Linked DNA regions of Homo sapiens: region 1 is linked to region 2. Evidence: fine-mapped expression QTL. Tissue or cell type: monocytes. Region 2 holds a variant in brackets; the other region holds the start of a gene. All regions are shown on one strand. Distances are from middle to middle. Region 1 holds the start of SRI (sorcin). Region 2 holds the start of STEAP4 (STEAP4 metalloreductase).

What was found. PIP is the estimated chance that this variant, and not a neighbour inherited with it, causes the effect.
Region 1: it holds the start of SRI, and the variant in region 2 is fine-mapped to the expression of SRI in monocytes (BLUEPRINT, PIP 0.95).

The regions. Positions count from the first base shown.
Region 1 is chr7:88,215,734-88,226,010 of GRCh38, forward strand. SRI (sorcin) reads right to left here and starts at 4,305. Exons shown (of 8, transcript NM_003130.4): 1 at 4,243-4,305; 2 at 3,126-3,209; 3 at 1,389-1,458. The coding sequence starts at 4,293. SRI-AS1 (SRI antisense RNA 1) reads left to right here and starts at 927. Exons shown (of 3, transcript NR_120517.1): 1 at 927-1,024; 2 at 3,016-3,491. LOC124901691 (a long non-coding RNA gene) reads right to left here and starts at 851. Exons shown (of 2, transcript XR_007060419.1): 1 at 710-851. RefSeq lists silencers at 3,291-3,380, 4,028-4,527.
Region 2 is chr7:88,298,383-88,308,659 of GRCh38, forward strand. STEAP4 (STEAP4 metalloreductase) reads right to left here and starts at 8,512. Exons shown (of 5, transcript NM_024636.4): 1 at 8,410-8,512. The region is part of intron 1 of LOC124901692 (a long non-coding RNA gene); the gene reads left to right. The variant A/C (reference allele first, on the strand shown) is at 4,823.

The sequences.
Region 1 (10,277 bases), 83 kb before region 2:
AGTTTTTAAAAAAAGGCCACTATAAATTCACAGCTGTGAATTCTAGTTTGAACATTTTAATCCACAGCTAACCATGAAATTGGGTCTTCAATTTGATGTTTTGTCTCAATTAACAACTGGCAAAGAAGTTGGTAATGTATTTGAACTAAGACATTATTCTCTACCCTGGAAATCTATCATGTTCAAGATCTAATTTCAAGAGGAACCACTTCATATGTGTTGGATGATGAGAAGCCCCCAGTTGGGATGCAGCAATTTTTTGGATTTTCTGAGACAGGCTGTCACCCAGGCTGGAGTGCAGTGGCACAATCTTGGCTCACTGCAACCTCCGCCTCCTGGGCTTGTATAATCCTCCCACCTCAGCCTCCTGAGTAGCTGGGACCACAGGTGCATGCCACCATGCCTGGCTAATTTTTAAATTTTTTGCAGAGACAAGGTTTCACTATGTTGCCCAGGCTAGTCTTGAACTCCCGGGCTCAAGCAATCCTCCCACCTCAGTCTCCTAAAGTGCTGGGATTACAGGTGTGAGCCACTGTGCCCTGCCAGGGATGGAGCATCTTTGCAGTATTTCATTACTCTCAGCTCATGGCAGAGTGTTCAAAAGGCAGGGGTAGGGTAAGGGCTGAATTATGGAGCAGCAGGTCCAGTAAGTAGAAAGGCCACTTCCCACTTAGCCTGAATACATTCTATGAAGTGGAAGAGGAAAGACCTGAGGGATGTCATGGCAACCACTTATGTTAGCAGGAGCATGCCCAAAGCTCAGAGACCAGGAGTGCAGGATAGGCCACTCAGGGACCAGGGGTGCAGGGCAGCAACTCAAAGCCCTAAGTGCCACCAGGTCAGGGCAGAGTAGGCTCTTGGCAAATAACAGTAAATATCAGTTCCTAATGTCAGTTAATGACCCCTGACCTGGCAGATTCCATTTCAGCACCCTACCTTGTCCTCTGTGAAGGAGGCCACCCAAACTGTCTCACTGGTTCTAGGTACACAAAACCCAAATCTGAGAAATCCACTAGATTGGCAGGTAGGATGGAATAATTTATTATTATTATTATTTTAAAGACAAGGTCTTGCTCTGTTGCTCAGGCTGGAGTGCAGTGGTACAATCATAGATTACTGCAGCCAAAAACTCTTGGCTTCAAGCGATCCTCCTGCCTGGGCCTCTGAAGTACTGGGATTACAGGTGTGAGCCACTGTGCCCAGCCTGGAGTGATTTAAAAACTGTTTTCAAATCAACATTTTGAAATAGTACTGTATTTTAGCTTTCGGAATTCTAAACTTTGCTAGATCCGACAAGCTCAGTTTTCTTGAAGGCTGTAATCACAAGTAACAGCTAAGATAGGAAACACAAGAGTATATTTAGACAAACTTTGGGACTGTCAACTTACGTTTGTATCCTCCAGCAATGCCAGACTGTGTCAGACATCTCTGCAATTCATCAGCATCTATCTGCCCATCCTTTTGAAAAAAAATTAGAGGAATCATAATAGTGATTTGTACTTTCAAGTTGTTTACCTTCAGCATTCAATGAAGCAATAACAACAAAGAAAATCAGTATCTTTTTTTTATTTAAAAGGAATGCCTTTTTTTTATTAAAAGGAATGCCTTCCAAAAGTGGGCATTCTTTTCCTTAACCCACTTCCAAAAGTAATTTAATGATGAAAGAAAGAGTCTGTCTTGGCAACTACTCTTCTCTCAATCTGAGCTAGCAAACTGCTACAGCTAAACATTTTAAAATATTTTTTTTTGATGGGGGTGGAGAGAGCAAGGTACAAAGCAGACATCAATAAATAGAAGGCTTGGTTCAAACAGAAAAAGGCCTCCTTGGTCACTTTTTCTTATGATATAGTGAATCATTTTTTTCAGAGCACAAATACATCTGGAAGATTCACATTAGGTTCCCAGTGCCCATTCACTGGCTGAACTGGGAAAGAACTAGATATATGTGATTTTTAGGGACTTTAAAATAAAATACCTAAATCTTCAAGTCACTGGGTATTATAAGTTATAAATGAGGAGCAAGATCAGCAATTTGAAAGACAATGGGTATGCTGAATACAGGCCAGGGCTGCTGAAAGCTAAGCAGGTGGAGTCACTTACATGCTGGAGGCACTGGCAATCTAAGAATGCTAGTCTTGAGGTTTGCCATGCCTTGTGGTTTCAAAGATACAGATCATTAACAGTTTAAGTAGATACTTAAGGGGAAGGTCTTCCAGTTTTAGACTATATTTTCCATTCAATTTCTTAAGCTGTATTTCTTAGAGTACTACCTTAAAAGTGGTCTTAGGTTTTTTATCCCATAATATTCTACAGTTTTCACATTAAGATTTTGCTATTTCTAGCTTTTGGTCAAAACAAAACTAGGTTGAATTCATAAGAACAAACATCTCCTCTGGACGTGTCTGGGTTATACCAACAGTATATTTACTGCACACAGTGACCTCATGAACTAGGGAAGTGTCCTCTCTCAATGTAAGATAGCACCTGTCAATGTAAGATAGCACCTGTCATACAACTCAGAATGCAGACAAGTGAAAGGTCTTGGGGAGCTGACCTTAATTGCTTCTCTGGGTCAACAGGCCAGAACACCTAATAAGGACATGGAGGGGCTGACCTAGTAACAGCATCTGCATCAAAGAGAAACTACACTGTTCACAAGATTAACTTTCTGATACTAAGAAGGGAACAGTAACTTCCTTATTTAGAAGCTGGTGGGTTTTTACCATATTTCCTAAGGGGGTGAATGATTAGCAATCAAGTTCAACCCAAAGAAAGTGCCCATTAGAATCGAGCTATGTAATTACTAATATATGTCTTTAAGTTGTACAAACAAGCGTTTATATTTACCAGATCTTGAATTTTTTCGCTTGAAACCATCCTGGACCCTTTAATTCAACCACAAGTTTGCTTTCGAACTGAACTCACATAAATACGAGTAACACTTTGTCCTCATTTATTCTGAACATTCAGAAATAAAAAACTAAAATAAGAAACAACTTTTTTTTTCTTTTGCAGAAGCAAAGGGACTCAGTACCACAGGAAGTTCGCTTTTCTGTGTCACTATATCAAAAGCTACCACAAATGCAGACAATAACGGCTCTTTAATATTAAAGGGAAAAGCTAACCTGTCCAGCTACAGCAGCAAAGTAACCATACAGCGGATCCTGAGTTTGTCCGGGAAACGCAGGCCCTCCGGGAGCCCCTCCATACTGTGAAACAGGAAACACATACACGTCATTCTGCCGAATCAAGTTTTCTTCTTTCACCACTGAGGGCTTTTGTGCAAGGCCAGACAACTGCCCGCCTGCCCGCCCTTCACAAGGCTCACCTCCCCACCACCGGGCACACTCTGCCAACACTCCACCCCTCTCTTCCATTCACACCCCGTAATTTAAAAACTGGCGACTTAGACCATAAAGAGTTGCTGTGAAAGTGATGTCTACATATGTAAAGCAACTTTTAAAATCCCTATTAACCTGAAGGTTACTGAGGTGAGTGCAAACTAGGTAAGCCAACGAATGGCAGGGCTTCAAATTCTCCTTTTGTTGTTACAGCATTTATGGTATTTTAAGAGCGTTTTATGAACGATGGAAGGCTGGAGTTGGTAACATTCTGAGACGGGTGTAGCCTAGGGAAGAGTAAGGTGTCCGGCCGGGCTGTATCTCGTGGGTGGCGAGGGAACATTGCCTGTCTCGGAAACAGTTCCCAAGACAACGCGCATCCCAGACGCCCGGCGAGGCTGCCTTCCTACAGGTCTTTTACTTCAGCAGGTTTTCCCTTTTTTTCCGTCCCCCTTCTCACTCGTTTTTTGTTTGTTTGTTTGTTTGTTTGTTTGTTTGTTTTTTAAAGGGAGGAAGGTATATCATTCTAGAATAAAATGACTGTTGTTGCTCTGGGAGGCAACCAAGAAGGCGGGGGTGGGGTGGGGTGGGGGTCAGCCAACACCCAATTAACACGATTTCACGCCGCGTATCCGAGAAGCCGCAGGGTGGGCTTCTAGGGTCCCAATCCACCCTCACCTTGGCCCCGCAGGGCCATCCAGGAGAAGGGACGGGGAAACGTGGGGAGAGGCCGAACCCCAGGGGCCTAGGGCGAGGCCGCGAGCGCAGGGAGAAGCCGAGGGCGGAAGGAGCCCGGGTAGCCGCCCAGCAGCGCCTCACCCCGCTGGCCGCAGCATCTCCAAGGTGGCCTCTTAGCGCCCCGGAGCCGCCTGGGCCGCGATCCCGCGCAGTCAGCACTTACCCCGCCTGGGTAGTACCCGCCGCCGGCGCCAGGATGCCCCGGGTACGCCATGCTGCAGACTGCGCCGCAGCCGCCCTCGCCCTGTGCGCCAGGCCTCTCCGCCCCCTGCCCCGCCCCGCCCTGCCGCTAGGGGGCCGCCCCAGAGCGCACCACGCGGGCGTGGGGGACGCGCTCCGCAGTCGTCTCCAGCTCTTGCCTGTGCGCGCGGCCGTGGCTCCCCTGCCTGCGCGCTTCTTCGTATCTTTGCCATTACGGCGCTAATGCAGTGCACGACTGAAGGTCCAGTGGCGGCCTACGACCTGCGAGGCAATTCACACCAGGGACTTTCCTCCCTCCAAAACTAATGGCACATTCCAACACCAATACACCACCCCAGGAATTCTTTTTTTTTTTTTTTCCTTCGGACTTGGCTATTATCTGGCACATTTCTTATTTTAAACAACTTTATTGGACAGGACGGAGCTATTATAAGCGGAGCGCACCATCGCGAGGCAGGGGCTGGATGCGTTAGGGCAAGCCTTAGGTGCCAGTGGGTGAAGGAGTCTTTGAAAGATGGAAATACGAAAGCGCCCTTGGAAAATAAGAATTAACTTGACGAACTGTGTGCAAGGGAGAGTTTGGCTTGCTGTTGGTTGCAGAGTTCACTGAACGACAACGGCGTATTTCCTTCCTAGGGGACAATTCCTTGCCTGTTTAAGCTGAGCGTGACTTGTGTCCTGAGTAGGACAGAGGGCATTTTCCGGGCAGGACAGACTCACACATATCGTTCTTAGGAAAATGAATTGTTTGAATTATCTGGATGATTCAGACAAAACAATCCATTTCCCTAAAAGTATTCAGCTACTTTTTATATAAGAAAAGTTTAGAACAAACTAATAGTGTACTGGTAAGTATTCAGGAAGATAAGAGATAGGAACTTCTATGTAGGTTATTCTTCTTTACTTCATATATTTTTCTATCTTCCAGTTGAATAGTCCGAAGCAATTCAGGCGTGAGCTTTTTGTTTTGTTTTGTGTAATTTCAATGACAGAAAATTGCTTGCCCTTCACTGTTAAGGACTAGACTTAATGATTTCCTGAATTTTAACGTATTGAGAAACGCATTAATAAGCAAGATTCACAGTATTTGTTGTGGAGGTTGCACAGAAACATTTAAAGGGTCATCAACATTTCACAAATATTGGAGCACCCGCCAATGTGGTACTGTGCTTTTTCGCTGTGGTGGACGGGCTTCCTCCATTCTAAATTCGTGGGCTATTGTCCTCATTCGGTTCATTGTTTTTCTCTTGTGTGTAACTTCCCTCGCAAGCCCTTTTGAAAACCAAAGTCCGAATTGTGAGAAAAATTCTAATAGTCCCTGTTGTGGCATAGCAAAGACACTGCATGTTGCCTGTTTTGTGTTTGATTCAGGAAGCAGGTTACTGTTTTCAATCATCAAGGTAGCAATCATCAAGGTAGATGAGACATCTAATGAGTCCCCTGGTCTCTCTTTGGAAGCCTGTTTCTTCAGAAAGAGGTAACCGACTATAAAGAGTAGATGTCAGGGCCGAACTCGATGTTGAGTACAAGCTCAAGACTCAAGTTTGAAAGAAGTATAAAGCATATAAAATATTTTTAAGTACTGCAGAATTAGCTTCGTGGATAAACGGCTATACGAATTGGCATATCAGTTGTCCTTAGACATCTTCCCACTGCTTTACTGCTAAAGAATTGAATTTTTTTTTTAATTACACTTTAAGTTTTAGGGTACATGTGAACATTGTGCAGGTTGGTTACATATGTATACATGTGCCATGCTGGTGCGCTGCACCCACTAACTCGTCATCTAGCATTAGGTATATCTCCCAATGCTATCCCTCTCCCCTCCCCCCACCCCACCACAGTCCCTAGAGTGTGATATTCCCCTTCCTGTGTCCATGTGATCTCATCGTTCAGTTCCCACCTATGAGTGAGAATATGCGGTGTTTGGTTTTTTGGTCTTGCGATAGTTTACTGAGAATGATGATTTCCAATTTCATCCATGTCCCTACAAAGGACATGAACTCATCATTTTTTATGGCTGCATAGTATTCCATGGTGTATATGTGCCACATTTTCTTAATCCAGTCTATCATTGTTGGACATTTGGGTTGGTTCCAAGTCTTTGCTATTGTGAATAATGCCGCAATAAACATACGTGTGCATGTGTCTTTATAGCAGCATGATTTATAGTCCTTTGGGTATATACCCAGTAATGGGATGGCGGGTCAAATGGTAATTCTAGTTCTAGATCCCTGAGGAATCGCCACACTGACTTCCACAATGGTTGAACTAGTTTACAGTCCCACCAACAGTGTAAAAGTGTTCCTATTTCTCCACATCCTCTCCAGCACCTGTTGTTTCCTGACTTTTTAATGATTGCCATTCTAACTGGTGTGAGATGGTATCTCATAGTGGTTTTGATTTGCATTTCTCTGATGGCCAGTGATGATGAGCATTTTTTCATGTGTTTTTTGGCTGCATAAATGTCTTCTTTTGAGAAGTGTCTGTTCATGTCCTTCGCCCACTTTTTGATGGGGTTGTTTGTTTTTTTCTTGTAAATTTGTTTGAGTTCACTGTAGATTCTGGATATTAGCCCTCAAACTATACTACAAGGCTACAGTAACCAAAACAGCATGGTACTGGTACCAAAACAGAGATATAGATCAATGGAACAGAACAAAGCCCTCAGAAATAACGCCGCATACCTACAACTATCTGATCTTTGACAAACCTGACAAAAAGAAGAAATGGGGAAAGGATTCCCTATTTAATAAATGGTGCTGGGAAAACAGGCTAGCCATATGTAGGAAGCTAAAACTGGATCCCTTCCTTACACCTTATACAAAAATCAATTCAAGATGGATTAAAGATTTAAACGTTAGACCTAAAACCATAAAAACCCTAGAAGAAAACCTAGGCATTACCATTCAGGACATAGGCATGGGCAAGGACTTCATGTCCAAAACACCAAAAGCAATGGCAACAAAAGACAAAATTGACAAATGGGATCTAATTAAACTAAAGAGCTTCTGCACAGCAAAAGAAACTACCATCAGAGTGAACAGGCAACCTACAAAATGGGAGAAAATTTTCGCTACCTACTCATCTGACAAAGAATTGAATTTTAATGGAGTGTTGCAAATTCAATTCTTACAATTATTGCTAACAAATTGGTCAGCTGCTAATACTTTAGTTTGCTGGAAAAAATTGTGGCAACTTATAATACCATCAGACATATATATAATAATAAAAATATGCCAGATCCTCATCGCATTTTACTTATTTGCTTAATCTTAATAAAAACCCATGGGATAGGTACTATTGTCATTCCTATTATACAGTTTTGAGGAAGGGGAAGGAACAGAACAGAGCTGAGCTATGCTGCCAAGCCATCTGACTCTAGAGTCTGTGCTCTACACCCAGGGGCAGGTAAAGGGCCAGGTAGTAAATATTTTAGGCCTGTGGGCCATACAGTCTCTGTATGAGAGAGTCTACATACATAGTGGTATGTAGACTATGTAGTCATAGTGGTATGGCCAAATACCACTCAACTCTGCTGTGTAGGCCACAAGTATCCATAGACAATAGATAAATGAATGGATGTCGCTGGGTTCCAATGCAACTTTATTTATAGACACTGAAATTTGAATTTCATATGACATGAAATATTATGCTTAATTTTATTTTTCCAACCATTTAAAAATGTAAATATTATTCTGAGCTCTTGGATGTACAGAAATAGGAGGTGGGTCAGATTTGGCCTTTGGGCAGTAGTTTACCAACCACTGCTGGAAGCCCCTCCAGAATGCGGGCTTATGACTCTGGCAGTTTAGCACTTTAGCAAATGATTTGCTGACTGTAAGATAAAGCCTATGGGTAGAATACAGTTATTTGTCAGAACGATTTACTAAGTCCTAAAAAAAAGACTGTAGGAGGGTTGTGACAACAGCATGGGTTAGGGAGAGAACTATGTGAGGTTTATAGATAGGATGCAGGTCATGGTTATTTTGGGAAGTCATTGGAATTACAGAAACCTTTCTGATCATATACTCCAATCCTGCTGTTTACAGAAGAAAAGACCAAGGCTGAGAGATGGCAAATATCTGGCCCCAGCTCTTGAAGAGCAGACCTAGCCAGATGTAGATATTTCACCCTTCCCAATTAAAGCTGTGACAGTAGATAAACATGCTCTCAGAGAGAATCCCATTCTTTTGTGGTACACCTTCCCTAATTATGTTTTCAAGACAAACGGCAGTGTGGACACTTTCTTATTCCTGGAGAAAAGTTAATATAAAGCTCTACATATAGTATCCAACCTGGACTTCTTCGCTCAGATAAGTGGTGAAAGAAATAGTGTCTAACTAAGTAACTGTAGTTATTTCACCATACCTGCAGTTGAATTAACCATAGGTCTTCACTTGTTAGGAAGAAATGAGCAATGACATTTGCCAATTTAAAGTTTCAATTTTTGTTTAGTTCTGATCTGGGTGTGGCACCTCATGATTTAAAGACCTCTGCCTTAGAGAGAAGCTCAGATCTCCAAATGTAAGTGGAAATGAGCATTTGATAACAACATAGGTAACCAATTAATAGTATCTCCACTTTCTTAAGATTGTTGGGAAAGAGTGTGAAGCCTATGATGTTCATTTGGGAATAAAAGCCACCCTTTTTCTTGAACTGTCCGGAGTAAGAGCTCAGTTAATCATGCTATTATGTAATTTTTTCAAGGGATAGAAAACTTCCACTATTGATGTTTTAGTGCTTGCATGTAGAGTTTAACTGGTCCCTGGCATATTGTAGATGGTAATGAATCATCAACCACAGCTCTTCAAACAACTTCTGCTACAATAGAAATGTTTGATAACTATGCCACACAATAACTAATCACATATGGCTATTGAGCCTGTGAAATGAGGAACTAAAATTTTAATTTAGTTTAATTTAAAATGGAATAGCTGTGTGGCTAGTGCTACCCTCTTGAACAGCACAGGGACCCTTTCATCTGTGTTGGCTTCCTCCTCCCTGGAACTCAGAGAAAGCAAACTCATTCTACTTGCCTGGAATAGGCATGATAAGCAAGATAAATCAGTTATTAACAAAACACAGCAAGGGCAGTCATCAGCTCTGTGACAAACGTTCCCATGTTCCTGTTCCTACAGAATAGATTCTCACTGACCTGTTCCTTCCCTTAATGAAGCTCTGAGCTGGAGTTGATGATCAGGATTAACCAGGAAGCTGATGTTGGAGGAATTTATTATGGCTAAATATATATGCCTATATACATATATGTGTATGTATGTATATCATTGTACATATGTAAATATATGTGTGTATTTTTACAAACACACACACACTTTATATATATACTTTCTTATCATTAGGGCTGTCAAAAATGACCTTCCAAAGATGAGTTCCCCATCACTAGAAGTGATCAAGAAGAGGCTGTCAGTGATGCTAAAGGGCAGTTTTGTACTTTGAGTAGGGGCCTGGATGAGTTAATGCTCTATGGACTACAAAGTATTTTCTGATGGCCTACTTAAACTTTACCCAGCCATGCCAGTTAGATTATTTCTACTTTACAAGATGAGGAAACTGAGACTCTGACTTGCTGAAGGTTACCAGACTAATAGCAATTCCAGTATTAATTGCTTATCTTGTCACTTCAGATCTTTTCTCAACCTCACGCTATTCTCTCAGGACTCTTCCTTTTAAGATTATGCAATTTCTATTGGATCAAGAATTTGGAGACATTGTTTTTTCTTTTCCTGAACAGAATGTGTTTCAGAAATCAGAATATTAAATTTAAAGCAATTGTCTAAAATAATGTACATCTAGGTAATGCTATTACTATCAATGATAAGAGTTCATTTTAGTGCAGATAATTATTTTTTGATGAACAAGATGTAAATATGCATGGCTAAAGGGGTAGCTAAAGGGAGGTCAAGAAATGAATGCAAGAACTGGCTGTAATTAGTTTTTGTCTGAGGCTTGTACTGATTATCAAGTCTCTACATC
Region 2 (10,277 bases):
TAGAACTAAGATAAACTCTTCTGATATTAAAATATAATTTGATTAGAAATTTAAATTCTAATTACATCAAACTGGTTCTTGTAAACACACACACACACACACACACACACACACACACACACACACACCTTTTACTCCAGGGGGAGAGGAACTTGAGTTAAAGAGAGCAAAAGCTTATCCAAACTAATTTTCAGAACCTACATCTAATTTCTTAGACATGTGCACTTCTCATAAGTTCATATTGCTGCCCATTCTCTTACTATCAGTTTAAGTAAAAATTAGAGCAATCCTGTAGCATGATAAATCATCAACTTGTGATTTCCAAAATAAGTTCTAGTAACTACTTAAGTTACTAATTGCTATAGATTAATATAAATATATCATTTAAAGCTCTTTTTCTACATAAAGAAACTACTTCAGGTTGGTTGCTAAAAAACTGATTATTTCAATTGTTTTGTGAGAAAATGTTTTGTATCCCATAGCAACTGAATTTGCTGATTATTTTTTATGCTAGACAATAGAATGGCACACAAAAACACAGTAATCTTAACTTGCACAGTTTCATCAAGTCACAAGAGCATAATTAAAGGCAATCTTTACATTAATGTTCTATAGAGATGTATCCTACATGAATTGCTAACAACTAGCTATGAACTAACTATGTCATATGCGGCAACTAAAGTGATTGTTAGTAATATTTTACTAACACTATAAATTATGAGGAAAGTGAGGTAATAGAGATCTATGTTAACTATTTTAATTGTATTTTAGGATAAACTTATTTATCTTAAATTTAGGTTCTTTGTCGAAATTCTAGTTCAATTAAAAATCTCATTAATACATGTTGCCACATTTCGATCTCAGCAGTATCTGTCAAGATAAATTAAGATTGTTTTATAATTCTCTGGCCAAGAATTTCATCAGGTAGGTTCATTATCTGCTGTCCAAGCTGGTTAGTTTATCTGATTAAAGCCCAGGACTCATGACAACAAGGTCAGGGATTCAGTCGTGTCTCTGGGTTAATTTACCTTGACTTCCATTTACATTTTAAATCCTGAACAACTTCTTACAAATCTGTGGGTCACCAAAGATTAGGCATCTGGTCATGACCAGGACCAGTGGATTGCCACTATCAGAAAAACAGCTCTATCTCATGGCTTTGGTGGCATTTGGCTTGTACATACTACATAAGCATTTGCTTAATCTGATGATCTGCATCAACTCCCCTAATATTTAGTGTTCATTAGTGGGTTTTGCTTTTCTAGGTCTATTGTGGTCAGAGATATTTGGGAAGTAATTTGTAATTTCAATTTTGAATTAACTTTGTTCAAATAAAATTTCTTAAGAATGGGCATTTATCTTTAGATTAAGGCCAATAGGAATTATCTAAATATCAATAACTGCCAGTTAGTTTGGAGAAAGCAGTTTTGTTGTGGATCTTGACCCCACCCCCATTCCTTGCTGTTGGAGGAACTCCATTCTGCTTTAAGGTATCTCCCAACCATTTTTAGAAATCTCTGGGGGCAGTCCACAATGCTTATGAATATAGCCTACTTCATCTTCTTTTGGGTAACTTCTAATACGGCACTCAGAGGCAAGGACTCCCCATGGCCCCAGTGCCTCTGATGTTTGCTGAGACCCATCAGATGGAGCTGCTGGCTATAATCTGGCCTTGCAGCTGCTCCATTTCTGACCTCAGGGGAGAAAGTGCTCTTGAAATTCCTTCTTCTAACCTTTTGTAATATTCTGATATACAAGCTTGAGAGCATTGCTAGTTGATAAATATTTTAAAATAAACAGCTCTTTCTTTTTAGTTTCAAGGTTTTTATTTTATTTTAGTTTTTGAGACATACTCTTGCTCTGTCGCCGAAGCTGGAGTGCAGCGGTGTGATCTCAGCTCACTGCAACCTCTGCTTCTTGGGTTCAAGTGATTTTCATGCCTCAGCTTCCTGAGTAGCTGGGATCACAGGTGCGTGCCACCATGTCCAGCTCATTTTTTTTTGTATTTTTAGTAGAGACTGGGTTTCACCATGTTGGCCAGGCTGGTTTCAAACTCCTGGCCTCAAGTAATCAGCCCCTCCCTCCACATCCCCTATGCCACTTTGCCCACCTTTGGCCTCCCAAAGCGCTAGAATTACAGGTATGAGCCACTGTGCCTGGCCTAGTTTTCAGGTTTTTAATCTCAGCCTTTCAGTGGTGTGGCTGTGGCCAGCTTGCCAGCTGGGAGCTTGAAATCAGTCACAGTAGGAGTTTTTACCTTATGACAATCACCAAGTGCTACAAATCAGGACTTTTTTTTTCCTTAGAGAGGCATTTACCAACATACCACTGGTTCTTCCCCTGCTTCTTTTACCCTTTTCCCCAAGACTCTGGAATGTGACCACAAAAATGGGAAAATATTTGGGCTGATGGGATAATACCATTTTCCCAGTCCTGGCTGAATCTGAGCATAAATCTATTTTCTTATGGCCTCACCTTCTTACAAGGCTCCTAAGTTCTTTAGGAAAACAGAATCCTTGTGGTTTCCCTACCCCAACAAAGGTTCCAGACCCTCTCTACCTCACACATGGCATCAACACAATTTTAGCTATAAACCTGATAGCTTTAGACTCTTGGTTCCCTAAGGGAGATAGATACAGGGACCCATCTGTGTACCACCATCCCCAGCACGTATTTTAAAGTTATTCAGACACACCTCAGAACTAGGGTAAGTGCAGTTTAGGATCTCAACTATGAAAACCAGAGGCAACTGGCACACTTTCATTATTAACTGCAATGAACCATTTACCAACCAGCTAATTGCTTTCTCCTCAATCTCCTCCCATTTCTTGTGCCACTTATGTCAGGGAATTGAATAGGATGAATAAATCACTTTAGTACTTTGGTACTGGAGAAGAGCATATCATTCTTAGACAGGGTCTTGCTCTGTCACCCAGGCAGGAGTGCAGTGGCATGATCATGGCTCATGCAGCCTTGACCTCCCAGGCTCAAGAGATCTTCCCACTTCCGCCTCCCAAGTAGCTGAGACTACATGTATGCACTACTACACCTAGCTAACGTTTTAATTTTTATTTTTTGTAGAGATGGGGTCTTACCATCGCCCAGGCTAGTCTTGAACTCCTGGTCTCAAGTGATTCTCCTACCTCAGCCTCCTAAAGTGCTGGGATTATAGGTGTGAACCACTGCACCTGGCCCCATATCACTTTTTTTTTTTCCAGACAGCTGGAGTGCGGTGGTGCCATCCTCTACCTCCTGGGTTCAAATTATTCTCCCACCTCAGCCTCCTGGGTTCAAACTATTCTCCCACCTCAGCCTCCCAGGTAGCAGGGACTACAGGTGTGCACCACCACGCCCAGCTAATTTTTGTATTTTTGGTAGAGATGTGGTTTCACCATGTTGGCCAGGCTCATCTTGAACTCCTGAGCTCAGGCAATCCGCCCGCCTCAGCCTCCCACAGTGCTGGGATTACAGGCGTGAGCCGCCGTGTTTGGCCCCATATCACTCTTTAAAACGAATTAGAATACAAAATATTACAAATAAATTTGTAACTACAATACAGTATAGCAACATAATAGGGACACTAAATCAGGAAATACCAAGGTTCCTGCAGTTTCTTCTACTTTAAATAAAATGTTATAATAATTTCAACTATTCACTTTATATGTGCTATACAGTTCAAAGCAACCTCATGCCTCTCCCTGAATGGTAGGAAGTTAAAATGTGGACTTTGCCACTGCACTTTGACCCTGTTAACTAATATTGTGCAGGCAGCATCCATACTCATTATGTACTATGTCCATAAGGTAAGTATCTTCCAAAAATAAAAATCAGTGTTATTAGCAATGCCTTGCTTTCAACAGAGATTTATTGAATAGCCACACTAAGAGGGATAAAGTGAGAAACGAGATGGACCCTGTCCTCAAGGAGCTTTGGTCTTGGGAAAGATGAAGCATATAATCAAATTGTTGCAATGCATAGTGTAATGGCCAGAGCAGACGAATGTGTAGAGAGGATGGGCGCCTACAGGCTAGGAGGGACTTGAATCTGCCAGGAAGCGGAACAAGTAAGTTTTCCAAAGTCTGTGCAAAAGTTTTGCAGCCACAATTTAACTTGAGCTCAAAACTGTTTTCACACCCTGTAAAAAGAGCAGGTATAGATGAAAGATGAACAATCAGCGATGACCATTAATTATCCCTTCCTATTTCTACGCTCCACAGTGCTGGTGCCATCAGCTCTCTGAGCCCTGGCTCTGTTCTTAATGCATTTTTTTTTCCTTAATATTGGGTGCTGGCCAGGTGCGGTCACTCACGCCTGTAATCCCAGCACTTCGGGAGGCCAAGACAGGCAGATCACTTGAGGTCAGGAGTTGAAGACCAGCCTGGCAAAAATGGCGAAACCCCATCTCTACTAAAAATGCAAAAATTAGGTAGGCTTGGTGGTGCATGCCTTTAATTCTAGCTACTCAGGAGGCTGAGGCAGGAGAATTGCTTGAGCCCAGGAGATGGAGGTTGCAGTGAGCTGACATCGCGCTACTGTACTCCAGCCTGAGTGAAGGAGTGAGACTGTCTCAAAAAAAAAAAAAAAAAAAAAAAATTGGGTGCTGAGGCCAAACTGACTAGCTTGTATTCTACTAATAATCTTCCAAGAGCTGTGCTATATAGTTTTATTTTCTTTTAGCCTTCTTTTTATTTAGAATTATAGTTCCTAACTTTTCAAAATTACTCTTTGCAAACATTTTCCTTCCTTTTAAGATGAAAAGGGAACTTTATCCTGATGTTAGGATTGATCATATAATCTGCATTAAAAAAAAAAAAAAAAAAAA[A/C]AAAACTCCAACCGGGCGCGGTGGCTCACACCTGTAGTCCTAGCACTTTGGTAGGCCAAGGCGGATGGATCACCTGAGGACCGGAGTTCCAGACAAGCCTGGCCAACACGGCGAAACCCCTTCTCTACTAAACATAAAAAAATTAGCTGGGCATTGTGGTGGGCACTTATAATCCCAGCTACTCAGGAGGCTGAGGCAGGAGAACTGCTTGAACCCAAGGAGCAGAGGTTGCAGTGAGGCAAGATCCTGCCACTGCACTCCAGCCTGGGTGACAGAGCGAGACTCAGTCTCAAAAAAAAAAAAAAAAAGTCCTCCCAAAATAGCTTTTCAGAAATATGTGACTGCCAAAGTACAGTACAGTAAACCTCTCCACACATGGCTGAATAAACTCTTACAGAACATTGTGGAGAAGAATTTAGATTGGGATGTCAATGTCCTGCCTAGTTAATTAGAGTGTATATACTTCCTTTAGTAGAATAGTGTGTTCTTTTGCAATGATATGTTTCTGAAAGAGGATCTTTAAACAGCACAAGGATTCATTGTTTTCTATTCCTTAATGATTTGGGAAGAACAAATTGTTAATCTATGTAGGCCAAGAATGTTTTCTTAGCATGCCTTGTTTTATGCATTAATTATTCTTTAGTTATTTATTTAGTTTGATTCCTTCCAGGACTGATTTCTTCTTAACAAAAGGACAAATACTAATTCAAATCACTTTGGAAATGACCTAAAAGTCATCAGAAATATCTTGAGTGGAGTTAACACAGTATATAGAACTGTTCAGGAAGTTTTCCTAATTAGTAAACCAGTCTCTTTTCATGTCCTTTGTAGGGACATGGATGAAATTGGAAATCATCATTCTCAGTAAACTATCGCAAGAACAAAAAACCAAACACCGCATATTCTCACTCATAGGTGGGAACTGAACAATGAGAACACGTGGACTCAGGAAGGGGAACATCACACTCTGGGGACTGTTGTGGGATGGGGGGAGTGGGGAGGGATAGCATTGGGAGATATACCTAATGCTAGATGACGAGTTAGTGGGTGCAGCGCACCAGCATGGCACATGTATACATATGTAACTAACCTGCACATTGTGCACATGTACCCTAAAACTTAAAGTATAATAATAAAAAAAAATCTGTGAAGAACAGAGACAGGTAACTTCAGAGATCTTATCTCTGTAAACCTTACATTATTATTATCTGGCATAAACTTACAACAAAAAAACAAACAAACAAACAAAATCCCACCCAGAAAACTTCACTATCCCCATCCTACTCTGCATTGTTATAGTAAGAATTATTGGTAGATGTAGCTGCAGGCACTAGCAAATTACCTTCTCAGAGGACAACCCAGAAAAAACTAGCTACAAAGTGCCCTAGCAAAGTGCCCAATCTTCAGGTTTTGAAGGACTACTGTGTTGCTGCTGTTGTGTGTGTGTGTGTGTGTGTGTGTGTTTGCTAGCAACTTATCAGATTTCCTAAGATTTTCCAAAAAAAAAATGATTTTTAAGTAGCATTTGATAAACACGTCTAAATTAATTATGAAGAGAACTAGGTGGTAAGGATCCTAAAACAGTGGAATGTGTTCCTGAGAGTGACAACAGAATCAGCTACCCAGCCTTTAAAAGGAGAATTTATATCCTTTTAATAACAGTATTAATAATAGTAGGGTGATTCAGGGGAAGTCCTTCAAGAGACAAAGTAATGCAGAGTGACCACTCCAAGTTTCTTTGAATATAAAATTCCATAACAAATGACCTTATTTTTCTTAAAATTGTTCACACATAGTGCAAGGCCTGGGGTTTTTAATTTATTAACAATCTTAAAAAGTCTGTTTAGTTCCTTCTAAACAACAGTTAGCGAGCTTTAGTAAGGCAGAAGTCTGGAAATTGTTCTTCAGCTAGGGGCCAGGCCTTGTACACCTGGTTTCTGAACAATGTGAACTTCAACAATGTGAACAACGTGAACCTCAGTGGAACTGTAAACGTTACCAAATAGAAAAACTGCTATGACCCAATTTCTCTGTACACATGTACCATTTACTTTACAGCCTTGGAGCCTGATAAATAGGAAGTGTCTCATCCTGTTTTCTGGGTTGGCAGTGTTTGCCATGCAGGTAGAATACATGCAGGTCAAATCTCATATTGTGCTAAATCACAGCATTCTGAAAAACTTGGGACCTTGCAAAAGGCCATATCTCAGAAAAGTTACTGCTTCAAATAAATGTGCCATTTTACAAAATTATACCTACTGTATCAGAAAAAAAAAATGTTCTCTCATGTGAGTGACATTTATATGACTGCCATTTGTAGGGAATAGGACATTCTCACATAGCAAGGCTGAAGAATGGTTTTGAAAGCTGAGAGTATTCTCTGAATGATAAATGTGGCAGAACTTTAAGATGCTCCTGTGGGAAGAGACTCTTCCCCCGACAACTGGAGAGTTTCCTTATAAAAATGGAACATGCATTATTATGAAAAAAGTAACCACTGAATTATAGTTGTAGCATTAAGGAGATTTTCTATGTATTTCAAACTTGCAGGCATCTTTAGTCACGGCTTTTCACCTTGTTAGAGTTGAACTTTCTGGATCATCTGGCCCAGTAGCCAGCCTTTTATTTTACATCTGTGGAAACTGAGGCTGAGATAATGAGGTTCTAGTTATTATAGAACTAGGAATAGTATTCTTCCTCCCCTCCCCCATTCTCTATCCAATTCACTTTCTCAGCTCACTGCAACCTCCACCTCCCAGGTTCAAGTGATTTTCCTGTCTCAGCCTCCTGTGTAGCTGGGATTACAGGCACCTGCCACCACGCCTGGCTAATTTTTGTATTTTTAGTAGAGACTGGGTTGCACTATGTTGGCCAGGCTGGTCTCGAACTCCTGACCTCAAGTGATCCATCGGCCTTGGCCTCCCAAAGTGTTGGGATAACAGGCTTGAGCCACCGTACCCAGCCTCAGTACACCAATCTTTTAAAGAAAGTTCCTAAATTACCATCTAGAGGTGGGAAAAAGAATAATAAAATTCTGTCTCTGGACAAACAAACGGAACTGAGGCTTTATTTACTCTTCACAATAAATTATATTCTGAACAATCTTCCTCCAGAAAAATAACCTTTAAATTGCAAGAGGAAATTTAAATCAAGATAAAAAAATGGAAGTGGTTGCAGGTATCAGGACAAATTTTTAGTGCCTGGTCAAGAAGCAGCCTCGGATCTGAGACCTTGGAGACTGACTGCTAAAGCCACATTCTTCCAGCCTACTTTTTGATGGGCGCCCCAAGAGTGCGCCAATCCAGAAGTAAGATGCAGAGAAGAATCTAACCCCTTAATTTTCCCCCTTTGGGCTTGTCTGCACCCTGGGGTAGGGATGAGCCTTAAACTCCAGGAAGTTAGAAGCTTGCTGAATCGCGGAGCAGCCTCAGGTGACTTTCCTCTAAAGTGATGCCGGGGCGCGGCGGGGAGTTTGCAAGCACCTGTTCTTCAGTGCGATGGGCTGGGGAGTGGGGTCCTAGCAGCAGGGACTGGAGGTGAGCTGAAGCAGATAAGGGACGGGAGCCTTGTGGCGAAAAGTGACCCACCTGAGGGAGAGGCGCTTCCAAGGAGGAAGCGTCCAGCGCCAACGGTGCGCGCCGCGGGCCGGGCGGGTAGAGGGAAGTTTCGCCGCGCCTGCAGCTCAGCGCTGTGGCTTGTGGCTCTCGCTGCTATAAGAAGCCAGAGAAGGGCGGGACGGTCTGCTGGATTTCGCAAGAGAAGCGGAAAAGAACTTGTTTCCTGGAAGAGTTCAAGCTGAGAATCCCAGCAGCTGGAAGGACCGGAACTTCTATACTGCGGTGCTGCTGATGGTGCCGCTGACCCCCGGGAAGCGGGGATTTTAAGGGTTACACCCGAGCCCTTGGCATCTGTGCATCCCAGGGTGATTGAGGTTTGGAGAGGTCTAGGAATCCCCCTTTCCTAAAGGAGCAAGAAGGATCTCTTTGAGTAGCTGAGAAAACAGCACCTGGACTAGGCTTCTAGGCAATTCTTTTGCCATCTTGTCTCAGTTTATAGAAAAGGTGGTATCTTTCCCCTCCGCCTGGAAGCCATGGGTTCTTATGGGGCTCATAACTTGGAAGATCTTGAGTTTTCAGGTCTTAATTTAGGTAGATTAAAGAAATAAAACAAATGAAAGAGGGATCGGGATACCTTATGATATACATGCAAATGTGTCTTTCTACAGAGAAGGTCAAAAACCACAGCCCTGGTTGTTTAAGATTGAAATAATCCTGATAAACTATGGGGCAAAGCATCCATACACTCCCAAACTCTGTAATCTAAATCCCAGAGTCTTCCCAATGATCTCCACTCAGCCATGGGTCTTAAATTCCACAGCATACGCTTGCCAAGCTCCAGAGGCCCGGCCACATGGGAGGCCTGTTCCTCCCATGGAAAGGGGTTGTTGAGTCAACCTTCCCTTTGTCTGGATTGCAACTCTCCTCATAGCTTCTTGTGGGGTTGGTCAGACCCCATGTCTTTCAAGAGGTCTTTTCTTAGCCATTAGTTGCAATTAATATTTTCTTTCTCTATACAGTAGTTTATACTTTTAGCACAGCAATTAAGACAATTTGCCTTTCAAAAGAGTTATTATCATGTGTGTGTGTCTTGTCCTGGACTGCAGTCTTCGAGGGATGACACCCTAGTTTTTTCAGTCTGGAATTTTCCATAACACCTAGCAAAATGCATTACTTAACAATGGGGATTTATTCTGAGGAATGCCTCATTAAGCAATTTATTAAATATATTCTGAGGAATGTCTCATCAAGCAATTTCGTCATTGTGTGAACATCATAGAGTGCACTTACACAAACCTAGATGGTATCACCTACTACAGGCCTAGGCTAGATGGTATATAGCCGATTGCTCCTAGTCTACAAACCTGTTCAGTATGCTACTTTTCTGAATACTGTAGTCAGTTGTAACACAATGGTAAGTATTTGTGTATCTAAGCATAGAAAAGGTATAGTAAAAATGTGGTATAAAAGATAAAAAATGGTATACCTGTATGGAACACTTACCATGAATGGAGCTTACAGGACTGGAAGTTGCTCTGGGTGAGTAAGTGAGAGAGTGTGAAGGCCTAGGATATTACTATACACTACTGTAGACTTTATAAACACTACATTTAGGCTATGCTATTATAAGAAATATTTTTCTTCCTTCAATAGTAAATTACCCTTAGCTTTCTGTAACATTTTTACTTTTTAAACTTCTAAGTTTTAAAAAACTTTTTGAGTTTTGTAATAACGCAGCTTAAAACACATATTGTACAGTGTGTACAAATAGTTTTTGTCTTTATATCCTTATTCGATAAGCTTTTGTCCCGTTTTTAAAAGTTTTAATTTTTTTGCTAAAAATGAAGACACAAACACACATATTAGCATAGACCTACACAGAATCAAGATATGTGATA